3 linked regions of the Homo sapiens genome follow. The protein of the gene in region 2 purifies or fractionates together with the protein of the main gene of each other region. This does not show direct contact. Each region holds a gene or a part of one and is shown on either strand. Other genes may lie near its edges.

The links.
Region 1: the proteins of POU2AF1 (region 2) and BRAF purify together in Homo sapiens (pull-down; one large-scale study listed by IntAct). This does not show direct contact.
Region 3: the proteins of POU2AF1 (region 2) and ATE1 purify together in Homo sapiens (affinity purification with mass spectrometry; 3 studies listed by BioGRID and IntAct, with this or other methods). This does not show direct contact.

Annotation. Positions count from the first base shown.
Region 1 is NC_000007.14:140,774,836-140,778,489, forward strand, and holds part of BRAF (serine/threonine-protein kinase B-raf), read right to left. Parts: intron 3,241-3,654; coding exon 3,156-3,240; intron 2,254-3,155; coding exon 2,077-2,253; intron 1-2,076. UniProt on the Homo sapiens protein: Protein kinase involved in the transduction of mitogenic signals from the cell membrane to the nucleus. Phosphorylates MAP2K1, and thereby activates the MAP kinase signal transduction pathway. Phosphorylates PFKFB2.
Region 2 is NC_000011.10:111,372,704-111,376,357, forward strand, and holds part of POU2AF1 (POU domain class 2-associating factor 1), read right to left. Parts: intron 1-3,654. UniProt on the Homo sapiens protein: Transcriptional coactivator that specifically associates with either POU2F1/OCT1 or POU2F2/OCT2. It boosts the POU2F1/OCT1 mediated promoter activity and to a lesser extent, that of POU2F2/OCT2. It recognizes the POU domains of POU2F1/OCT1 and POU2F2/OCT2.
Region 3 is NC_000010.11:121,917,972-121,921,625, forward strand, and holds part of ATE1 (arginyl-tRNA--protein transferase 1), read right to left. Parts: intron 1-3,654. UniProt on the Homo sapiens protein: Involved in the post-translational conjugation of arginine to the N-terminal aspartate or glutamate of a protein. This arginylation is required for degradation of the protein via the ubiquitin pathway. Does not arginylate cysteine residues.

The sequences.
Region 1 (3,654 bases), on a different chromosome or scaffold from region 2:
TGAGAAGGATTTGGCATCTCTTTCTTCTGAAAGGTAAATCTATCAATAATATGCAGTTGTGTGTAATCATTTTCATTTAACAGTTATGTACTGAGTATGCCAGGTCCCATTCTAGGCATTAGGCATAAAATAATGAAAAAAAGCCCCTGCTCTCATACAGCCTGCATTCTAGTGGGGATAAAAGACAAGAAACAAGTCAGATGGAGCTATGCGTTATAAAGAAAATCAAGCCTATGGGTATAGAGAGTGACAGAGTGACGTGGGGACATGTTAGTTATATAAGGTGAGCAAGGATTTCTATTAAAAGGGGACATATGAACCGAGACACAAGGATATTTGTGGCATGTGTATCCTAAAGAGAATATAACAAACATAAAGGTCCTAAAGAAGGAACACGCTTGGCCTGCTGAAGAAATTGCAAAGAGACCAGTGGTGTGGGAAGAGAATAAGCCTTTGTTTCTCACTGAATGTTCACAATCTTTGCCATGGTTTACTCTTCACAAGATTTTAATTCTTTTTTTTTTTTTTTGAGACGGAATTTTGCTCTTGTTGCCCAGGCTGGAGTGCAATGGTGTGATCTTGGCCCACTGCAACCTCTGCCTCCCGGGTTCAAGTGATTCTTCTGCCTTAGCCTCCCAAGTAGCTGGGATTACAGGCTTGTGCCTGGCTCATTTTGTATTTTTAGTAGAGACGGGGTTTCTCCATGTTGGTCAGGCTAGTCTTGAACTCCCGACCTCAGGTGATCCGCCTGCCTCGGCCTCCCATAGTTCTGGGATTACAAGTGTGAGCCACTGTGCCTGGCCAAGATTTTAATTCTTTAAAAGCCTTTAGATTCGAACAGATTCAGAGATTCTAACTTATCTGAAACGTTGAGATTGTTTCAAGTCTAGGGGTAAGTGGGGGTGTTACTGAATAAGGTAATAATTTGCTGTAATAAGTATTTTGGCCGAATATAGGCTTGTAAACAATCTAAATTATAGATATATTGCCTAGTTTTGAGAAAGAGAAGGTGGTATAGTTGGAAGATCTAAGAGCCAGATCTGGTTTAGAGTCTTGGCTCTATACTTACTTGCTAGGAGCAATACTCAGTTAGAGTTGTAGGTGTTAGTACATATATACCCTTTTACTCTTTTATTCTAATTTTGTAATGTAAAAGTAGCATAGTGGTTATGGGGAAAGAATACTGGATTGGGAGTCAGAAATCCTGAGTTAAACACCTTTGGTGCCACTTATTAAATGTGTGCCCTTAGACAAGGAACTTAAAAGCCTCAATTTCCTTATCTGTAAAAAGAAAAAAGATCTCCTTCATAACATTATAAAGATTAAATGACATAATAATCTATGTAAGTGAAAGCAATTTGTAAAAAACAAAATTCAGATCATATCTATTTTTAAACTTCTCACAGAGCTTTCAAATTCATATTTTACTGAGTTTATAATTTTCACCTAAGTGCTTTCAAAATTTGTTTAATTTTACCTTTTAATTTACCTATTCATTTGCACTTAAGAGTTGCAAAATTTAAAATTTATCCTTCAAAGTCAGTTCCCCATATTAGCTTATGGTAAACTTTATAAAATAACTCCTTAAATTGCATAGCAAAATTCAACAGATAGGAACTCACTCTGAAATCCTCAAAAAGGGTCAGAATGCAGATTTTTCACTTTAACTTTATTAACTGACCATTTTGCAACCAAAAATACGGGCACTCAGAGAAACTGATTTGAAAAAGTAACTAACAACCATTCTGTTTACTTGCACAACTGCTAACAACTTTTTAGCAGGTTTTTGCTGTTTCTATCTTCTGAACCTCTCTTGCTTAGCTCAATCACTGAGTGCTAAGCCTAAGTTTGCAGTCATGTATTTATTATCAAATACTTGATATATGTTCTGAAGGCTGCACTAGACAGAGACATTTATTTTTTAGTATCATATTATTTACCAGCCATTAGTTAGCATCCTTATGTTCCTGGACAGTAATTTAAAATGCAATCCAAAAGAATAGCAGCCAAAACCTTTAAAACATCCTCAATGGTCTTCAAAAATAATTTACAAGACATTTAACGAATGGAACTTACTCCATGCCCTGTGCAGTCTGTCGTGCAATATCTATAAGTTTGATCATCTCAAATTTGGTCTCAATGATATGGAGATGGTGATACAAGCTGGAGCCCTCACACCACTGGGTAACAATAGCCAGTTGTGGCTTTGTGGAATAGCCCATGAAGAGTAGGATATTCACATGTCGTGTTTTCCTGTACAAAGAAATGTGACAGTAAACATTAAATGTCGACAAACTTTAGCAATTCTTACAAAAGAGAACCAAAGTAGTCTGTCGGTAAAATGTTGTCAGAAAAAGCTTTTTTTTTTTTAAAAAAGGCAACAAAAGGATACATTTAGAAGAGACTGGCAATTGCCAAGTCTAACCTCCTACTTTATGCAGAGATATCTTTTTAAATATATCTGACAGGCAACTAGAGGTTGCTTAAATACCTTCAACTATGGGAAGTTCATCACTCAGTTGTAGCTGACTCTCATATCTTTATTTAAGTGGTTCTGGTATTATAAAGTTTCCAAGTGTTGAGACAAAATCATTTTCTTACAACTTTCACCTCTGGCTTGCTTCCCTGGTCTGCTCTCTGGAATAACTTTTTTTTCCGCACTCTGGAATAACTGTGCACTCTCTTGAACATAACAGCCTTCTGTGAACTAAATATCCTCAGTTCTGTTGATTATTTTCCCCCGTTACACCTCTAGAATCTTCCCTATTTAGGTGGTCCTCACTAGGCATATCCTAGTTTGTCAATGTTTCTAAAATTCCAGAGCCCAGGACTAAATACCACCTCTAAATGTATTCTGATAAGCTTAAAACTGGAGAGTATTCTTTTCATAAGTAGAACTATTACTTTATATTATCAGAATACTATACTTCCATTAATTCAGTCTAGGACTAAGTATTCTATCAGCCATACCATATAACATTGCATACTACTTAAAAGAATGTGGTTAAAGACAAAAATATACTCAGACATACTCTGTTTCTACAAATTTATTCATTTTGAGTAAATCTGTAAAGCTAATAGTTGCTACCACTGGGAACCAGGAGCTAATAAAAATAACTTCTTTCTCTGGAAAAGAGTAATTCACACAAGCTCACCTGAGTACTCCTACTTCATTTTTGAAGGCTTGTAACTGCTGAGGTGTAGGTGCTGTCACATTCAACATTTTCACTGCCACATCACCTAAAAGGCAATTGTTACTCCAAGTGTCATTTCAATTTTTAAAATTTAAAAGTATAAAACATTCTTGGGTGTTTTCACTAATTATCATAGCCCTAACTCCATACCATTATTAAATCACAAATAAATTATACTTTAGCTATCTAAACTCCATTTGTTTTCTAAGGCTAAAAATTCAACTAACAATGATATTCCTGTACTAGTATTTCAAAATATCAATCCAAAAAATAGCCAACCTTGTTTGTTCCATGGAAATTTGGTAAAATCAATTAAGTACCCATGGTATTTTCCAAATTATTTGACAATATTAAATTATACTTACTAGGCTTAATATTTATTTACTAACTGAAACTGCAAGTAATGTTGAAACTACAATTACCAGGCCCTATGGAATTTTGCTTAAAAGTAGGAAACTAT
Region 2 (3,654 bases):
TGTTACACTCAACATCCACCTTCCCTTCCTTTCTAACAGCCCCTGCATTATGGAGGGTGGCAATGTGCCCAGCTAAACAATTATGCTATTCTCCCTTGTAGATAGAAATGGCATCAGATGTCAGCAGAAGTTGTGTGTTGGGAGGGAGAAGGGGCAGCGATCAGGAGGCATGATCTTTTGCTATTCCTTTTTCTTCTTCTTGCTTGTCCGAAGATGTGATGCTCACAGATGTAATGGCTGGAGTTACAATGGCAACTATGAAAAAAATCTTGAGGACAAGAGCCACATGCCAAGGATGGCAGATTAGAAAGGAAAAAGGAGCCTGGGATGATGTTGGCACTGTGAGACTCCATAAGATCCTGAACACCCTACTGTGGACTTCTTTTATGTGAGAGAAAGGACACCACTGTCTTACTTAAATCTACGTTATTTCAGGTCTCTTCACCAGCAATCAAATGTAATCCAAACTGATCCAACAGAACATTTTGTATACTGCATAGCACCAAATAAGTTCTCCATTCCCCAGAGATGTTTGTTTATCACTGTTAAAAGGATTGAGCATTCTTCTGCTCTTAGCAATGCCCAAAGGTTTATTAGAAGCCATCCATTTCAACCTCCAGGTCAGCAGTTCTCAGCCTTCTCACCTGGGAGCCATTTGCAGCTCTCCTTCAATGCCCAAGACAATTTAATCAGAAGCTCTAGGTTGAGATCCAGGCATCTGTGTTTCTTAAATCTCCTCAGAGCATTCCAGTGTGTAGCCAAGGTATAAAAACACTGCCCTAAGCAGATAGAAGAATCCCATCTATTAAATTAAGGACTTCTGATTTTAAACTTTAATTTATTTTTTGTATAAACACTCAGGAAAACTCAGCAATTAGAGCTGGCAAAGAACCTCAATCAAGTTCAATCTCCAGGAAAATTAGCCAGGAAAAGGCAAGTTCCATTCCAGCACTAGAACATTTGAGACCCAAAGTGGTTAGGTGGCTTGCTTAAGGTCTCTCATCTAATTATCTGTAGAATGGAAAGTAAAACCCCTGGCTCCTGCCTACAAGTGCTTGTCCCCAGTATCACACAAGCGGGACAAGAGGGTTTCAGAGAAGGCCTCCCCATCCCAGGTAGGCTCACTTAGTTGTCAAGCAGTTCTACAAAAATGAGAAAACTAGAGTGTTATTAAGCATTTCATAAAGGTGAGAATTATGTTAATGTTCATAATCAATTAGCCAACTTTGGTTTGGTTGGCTCAGAATAAGAAATAGGTGGACATCTTCATTAAGTGGGAAGATAAACTACTTTAGAAAGATGTCAAAGGGGGAAAAAACACTTTGTAATGGGAAAGTTAAAAGCAAATATTTATAAGACTTCTTTATGAATTAAATGTCCACATATTTAATGAACAGCTGTAGGCAAACTTGATTTTTTTTTTTTTTTTTTTTGGTTCCTCATGAAAGAACAGAATCCCAAGTGTGAATTGGGAGAGAGCTTTCAAAACTTCTGAGTCAGTAACTTTGGGGACAAATCTGGCATTTTCTTTAGTAAATAAATATAAGGGGCAGGAAGTAAAATATCCATCAAGAACATCATCTGCTTTTTTACCAATTAAATCTGTGTATTTGGTTGATGTTTGTCCTTTATTTCACCTCCAGACAGTGCACGTGAATTTGTGTCTCTCTTTTGGATTCTACTTGCCCTTAACAGCAAGAACTGCTTAATTGGCCAGGCGTGGTGGTTCACACCTGTAATCCCAGCACTTTGGGAGGCCAAGGCAGGTGGATCACTCGAGGTCAGGAGTTCGAGACCAGCCTGGCCAACATAGTGAAACTCCATCTCCAATGAAAATGCAAAATTAGCTGGGCATTGTGGCATGTGCCTATAATCTCAGCTACACAGGAGGCTGAGGCAGGAGAATCACTTGAATTTGGAGGCAGAGGTTGCAGTGAGCTGATCTTGCACCACTACATTGCAGCCTGGGTGACAGAGCAAGACTCTATCTCAAAAAAAGAACTGCTGAATCAATGGAATCAACTTGGTAAGAAGTAAAGGTGCTCACTAGGCTTATTAAATAAGCAAAGGTTGTAACATAGAATAGAAATATTAGAGGTTGTCCAGAAACCTAAATTACCTCTCATTGTAAGTTGTGCTTAAATTTATGTAGGAGATAGGCTTCCAAAAATTATATGCATAGTACACATTTTACTTATCTTTAACTGCCTCCCAAACAATATTGGCTCTTTAGTGGAACCCTAGAGTACATCTGAAGAGCAGAGTTCTATGTTGATGAGAATTTTAAGTCCTTAATTTTTCTGTTTGCTAAATCTCTGCTCTGTTCAAGTTGTCTGAAAGCAAAGGCATATCCATGACATAATAATCTGATACGAATTATTTCCTGTTCCAAGGCCAAGTCCACAGGACACCAAGACAATCAGCCAGTCCAAAGAAAATCAGTCAAGCCTGCCTTTCATTAGCATGTAGATTGTTCCCTAATACAAACAACAACAATAAAAAGCAACTGTCCAATTTGTTCACTTTCTAACAAATGGAGTTCAGTTTATTATACACAGTTCTATCACTTTTAAGGAAGAAATTCAATCAAATCAGTTTGGGGCATTGTACAAATTATTTAATGAATTGGCTGCAAGTTTTATTTCCCATTGGTGTTGGCAATGTACAACCCCAGGATACTGAGTATCTTTTTTTTTTTTTTTTTTTTTTTTGAGGCGGAGTCTCGCTCTGTACCCCAGGCTGGAGTGCAGTGGCACGATCTCGGCTCACTGTAAGCTCCGCCTCCCGGGTTCATGCCATTCTCCTGCCTCAGCCTCCCGAGTAGCTGGGACTACAGGGGCCTGCCACCACAACCCCAGCTAATTTTTTTGTATTTTTAGTAGAGACGGGGTTTCACCATGTTAGCCAGGATGGTCTCGATCTCCTGACCTCGTGATCTGCCCGCCTTGGCCTCCCAAAGTGCTGGGATTACAGGCGCCCGCCACCGCACCCGGCCTGATACTGAGTATCTTAAGGAAATGAATGCCTGAAGAACCAAGCAAATCATCTCAGACCAGAGGTTGGCAATGTTTTTCTATTATAAGCCAGAGAGAAAATATTTTAGGCTTTGTATGCTGCACAGTCTCTGTCACAACTACTCAACTCTGCAAAAGCAGCCCTAGACAATATTCAAATGATAGACAGAGCTGTGTTCCAATAAAACTTTATTTACAAATGGAGTGGCAGGCCTGATTTGGCACAGAGGCCATAGTTTGCAGACCACTATTTTAGACCCTTGGAAAATTTTGCAATATCCTATCACCCAAGAATATTTAGACTGTGGCTTTTTAACTATTCTAATCAAAGTGTGGAAAAGAATATATGAATTTAACATAACACTGATCATTCAAGATGGGCCCACAGGTGGTTTCCAGGACGGAAGGTACTAACTCATCCCTACCACTACTTATCAGGAAACTTGCTATCATTTTACCTACATTCTCTACTTTAATTCTCACAAAAACCTTGGGAGGCAGACATTAGAATCCCCACTTCCCAGATAAGGAAATGAATGGAAATTTCCTTCTCACAAAGAAAGAACTAAGTTGCACAGGCAACTTTCAGACCTGTCTCCCTCCAAGGTTCCTGCTATTTCCACTACACTGTTACTAGCTG
Region 3 (3,654 bases), on a different chromosome or scaffold from region 2:
TCATTGCAACTGCTGTTATATACAAGGTAAAAATAACCAGAAGAGTAAATATGGAAAATGACTCCATAAAAAGATGATGTGGCTGGGCCCAGTGGCTCAACGCCTGTAATCCCAGCACTTTGGGAGGCCAAGGCAGGCGGATCATGAGGTCAGGAGTTCCAGACCAACCTGGCCAATATGGTGAAACCCCGTCTCTACTAAAAATACAAAAATTAGCAGGGCATGGTGGCATGCGCCTGTAGTCCCAGCTACTCAGGAGGCTGAGGCAGAAGAATCACTTGAACCTGGGAGGCGGAGGTTTCAGTGAGCAGAGATCGCGCCACTGCACTCCAGCCTGGGAGACTAAACAAGATTCTGTCTCAAAAAAAAAAAAAAAAGATGATGTATAATGAATTACAAAGAGACGCAATTCAGGAAACATTTGATGCCACGTAAAATGCAAAAATCACATAACTACTTTATTTTGCAATGTTAATGAATCCCCTTTTATAAAGGCAATATGCTTAGAATAGTGCTTTCCATGTAACAGGCACCAAATACAATTTAGATTCTTTTTTCTTTAACCAATCGAAATCACCCTTTTCTGATCACAGATTAAGCCAATCAACTTCAAACTTATGAATAGAATCCTGTCCATAATCCAATAAATTGCTAATTGAAGACAAATGACTTCTGCCTTAGAAGATACCTTCTCTTTATAACCACGAAAACTGAAAGAGGACAGCACAGGATACTCTGTCATTCTATTCTTTGTGTAATGACACAGTGTCAGCAAACCAGACCCCATTTTTCTCATCCTCTGCCAATCCAACGGCCAGCTGGACTTCTGGGTCGGGGCGGGGGTGGGGGGGACGTGAAGAACTTTTCTTACAAGAGGATTGTAAAATGCACCAATCAGCTCTCTGTAGCTAGGATTGTAAAACGCCCCAATCGGCGCTCTGTAGCTAGCTAGAGGATTGTAAAACGCACCAATCAGTGCTCTGTGGCTAGAGGTTTGTAAAATGGACCAATCAGCACTCTATAAAATGGACCAATCAGCACTCTATAAAATGGACCAATCAGCACTCTGTAAAATGGACCAATCAGCAGGACATGGGCAGGGACAAATAAGGGAATAAAAGCTGGCCACCCTACCCAGCAGTGGCAACCCACTAGGGTCCCCTTCCACACTGTGGAAGGTTTGTTCTTTCACACTTCACAATAAATCTTGCTGCTGCTCATTCTTTGGGTCTGCGTCACATTTAAGAGCTGTAACACTCACTGCGAAGGTCTGCGGCTTCATTCTTGAAGTGAGCGAGACCAAGAACCCACCAGAAGGAACCAACTCCAGATACACCAGCACTTTGGGGGGCTGAAGCGGGCAGATCACCTGAGGTCAGGAGTTCGAGACCAGCTTGGCCAACATGGTGAAACCCATCTCTACTAAAAATATCAAAAAAATTAGCCAGGTGTGGTGGTGCACGCCTGTAATCCCAGCTAGTCGGGAGGCTGAGGCAGGAGAATCGCTTGAACACGGGAGGCAGAGGTTGCAGTGAGCCGAGATAGCACCACTGCACTCCAGCCTGGGCGACAGCAAGACTCCATCTCAAAAAAAAAGCTCCTAATCAAGTATCAGTGAACCTTTGGGAGTCTGCGATCATTCTAAAATTAACACGCAAAATGTGCTGGGCATGGTGGCTCACGCCTGAAATCCCAGCACTTTGAGGTGGGTAGATCACGAGTTCGAGAGTAGCGCGGCCAACATGGTGAAACCCCGTCTCTACTAAAAACACAAAAATTAACCAGGCCTAGCGGTGGGCATCTGTAGTCCCGGATACTCAGGTGGCTAAGGCAAGAGCACTGCTAGAACCCAGGAGGCGGACACTGCAGTGAGCTGAGATCACACCACTGCACTCCAGCCTGGGTGACACAGCAAGACTCAGTCTCGGTGGGGAGGATATGCAAAATGTTACATATTTTTGTCTACATCCCTTTGGGCAGGAGGCCAGCTCTCATCGACTTCTCAAAATGGTTTGCAACCCAAAAACAAGTTAAGAGCAACCAAGGGAGACAGCTTTGAGGACCAAACAAAAAAACTAATGGACAAAAAACTGTTTAATTTTTTAATTTTTCATTTCTTAAAGTAAAACTGTCTTTTAATTTTATGAGTATATATACACATTGAAATTGGGGGCAAATACATGCTTCAAAATGTTAACGCACTTTTCACATTTTCTATCAAAAAAAAAGGTTCAGGTGCAGTAGTAGCTCACACCTATAATCCCAGCACTTTGGGAGGCTGAGGCAGGAGGCTCCTTTGAGCCTAGAAGTTGGAGATCAGCCTAGGAAACATGGCGAGATCAGCCTAGGAAACATGGTGAGATCTGCCTAGGAAACATGGCAAGACCCCTTTTCTATAAAAAAAAATGTAATTTGCCAGGCCTGGTGGTGTGTACCTACAGTCCCAGCTACTTGGGAGGCTGAGGTGGGAGGATTACTTGAGCCTGGCAGGCAGGCTGCAGTGAGCCATGGTTGTGCTACTGCATTCCAGCCTGAGCAAGACCCTGTCTCAAAAAAAAAAAGAAAAAAGAAGAAAAAGATGATGATGACCTTATAACCAGAATAAGAGAGAAGATTTTTCTATGTTAGGGTGAGGTGAGAAGGTACATGGAAAATCCAAAAGATTATGAAAAAATCCAACGAAGACTTTGTAGGAAAATAGACTTTGGTTTAAGTTTCCCATTTAAGAAAACTGGACTCTGGGCCAGGTGCAGTGGCTCACGCCTGTAATATCAGCACTTTGGGAGGCTGAGGCAGGTGGATCATGAGGTCAGGAGTTCAAGACCAGCCTGGCCAACATAGTGAAACCCCATCTCTACTAAAAATACAAAAAATTAGCCGGGCGTGGTGGCAGGCACCTGTAATCCCAGCTACTCGGGAGGCTGAGGCAGGAGAATCACTTGAACCCAGGAGGCAGAGGTTGCAGTGAGCCGAGATCGCGCCATTGCACTCCAGCCCAGGCGACAGTGCGAGACTCCGTCTCTTTAAAAAAAAAAAAAAAAAACTGGACTCTAAGTGTAAGTGGCAGATTAAATTTAAGCCCTCTTCCTTCCAATTAATTTTTTTTTCAACTTTTATTTTAGATTCAGGGGGTATAGGTACAGGCTGGTGACCTGGATATATTGCATGATGCTGAGGTTTGCAATATGGATGATCCCACCACCCAGGTACTGATCGTCATACCAAGTTGGTTTTTCAACCCTTAGCTCACGCCCTCCCTCCTCCTCTAGTAGTCTCCAGCTTCTACTTTTGCCATCTTTATGTCTGAGTACCCAAGGTTTAGCTCCCACTTATAAGTGAGTGAGGTGGGAAATTAAAGAAAAATAAAATTAAAAAGAAAGATAAATAAGCTTTCCTGTATTAGGCCGACTTGTCCCAGAGGCAGCAACAGGCACGGCCCAGACCCAGGAAAAGCCTTGATAATATTATCTAGTGTGCTCTGGAGATTCTCCCAGCACTCAACATGCAGAGAAGAAAAAATAAATTTTCCTTTGTTTTACGGAATGAGTTCATAGATTCCTGTTCTCTGTAACTAGTGACTTCAAGTATTGTTTTATCTGAGAAGTACAATGAATGTCATGAGAAGCCTGAGTAGGCCTGAACTGCAGCTGCCTG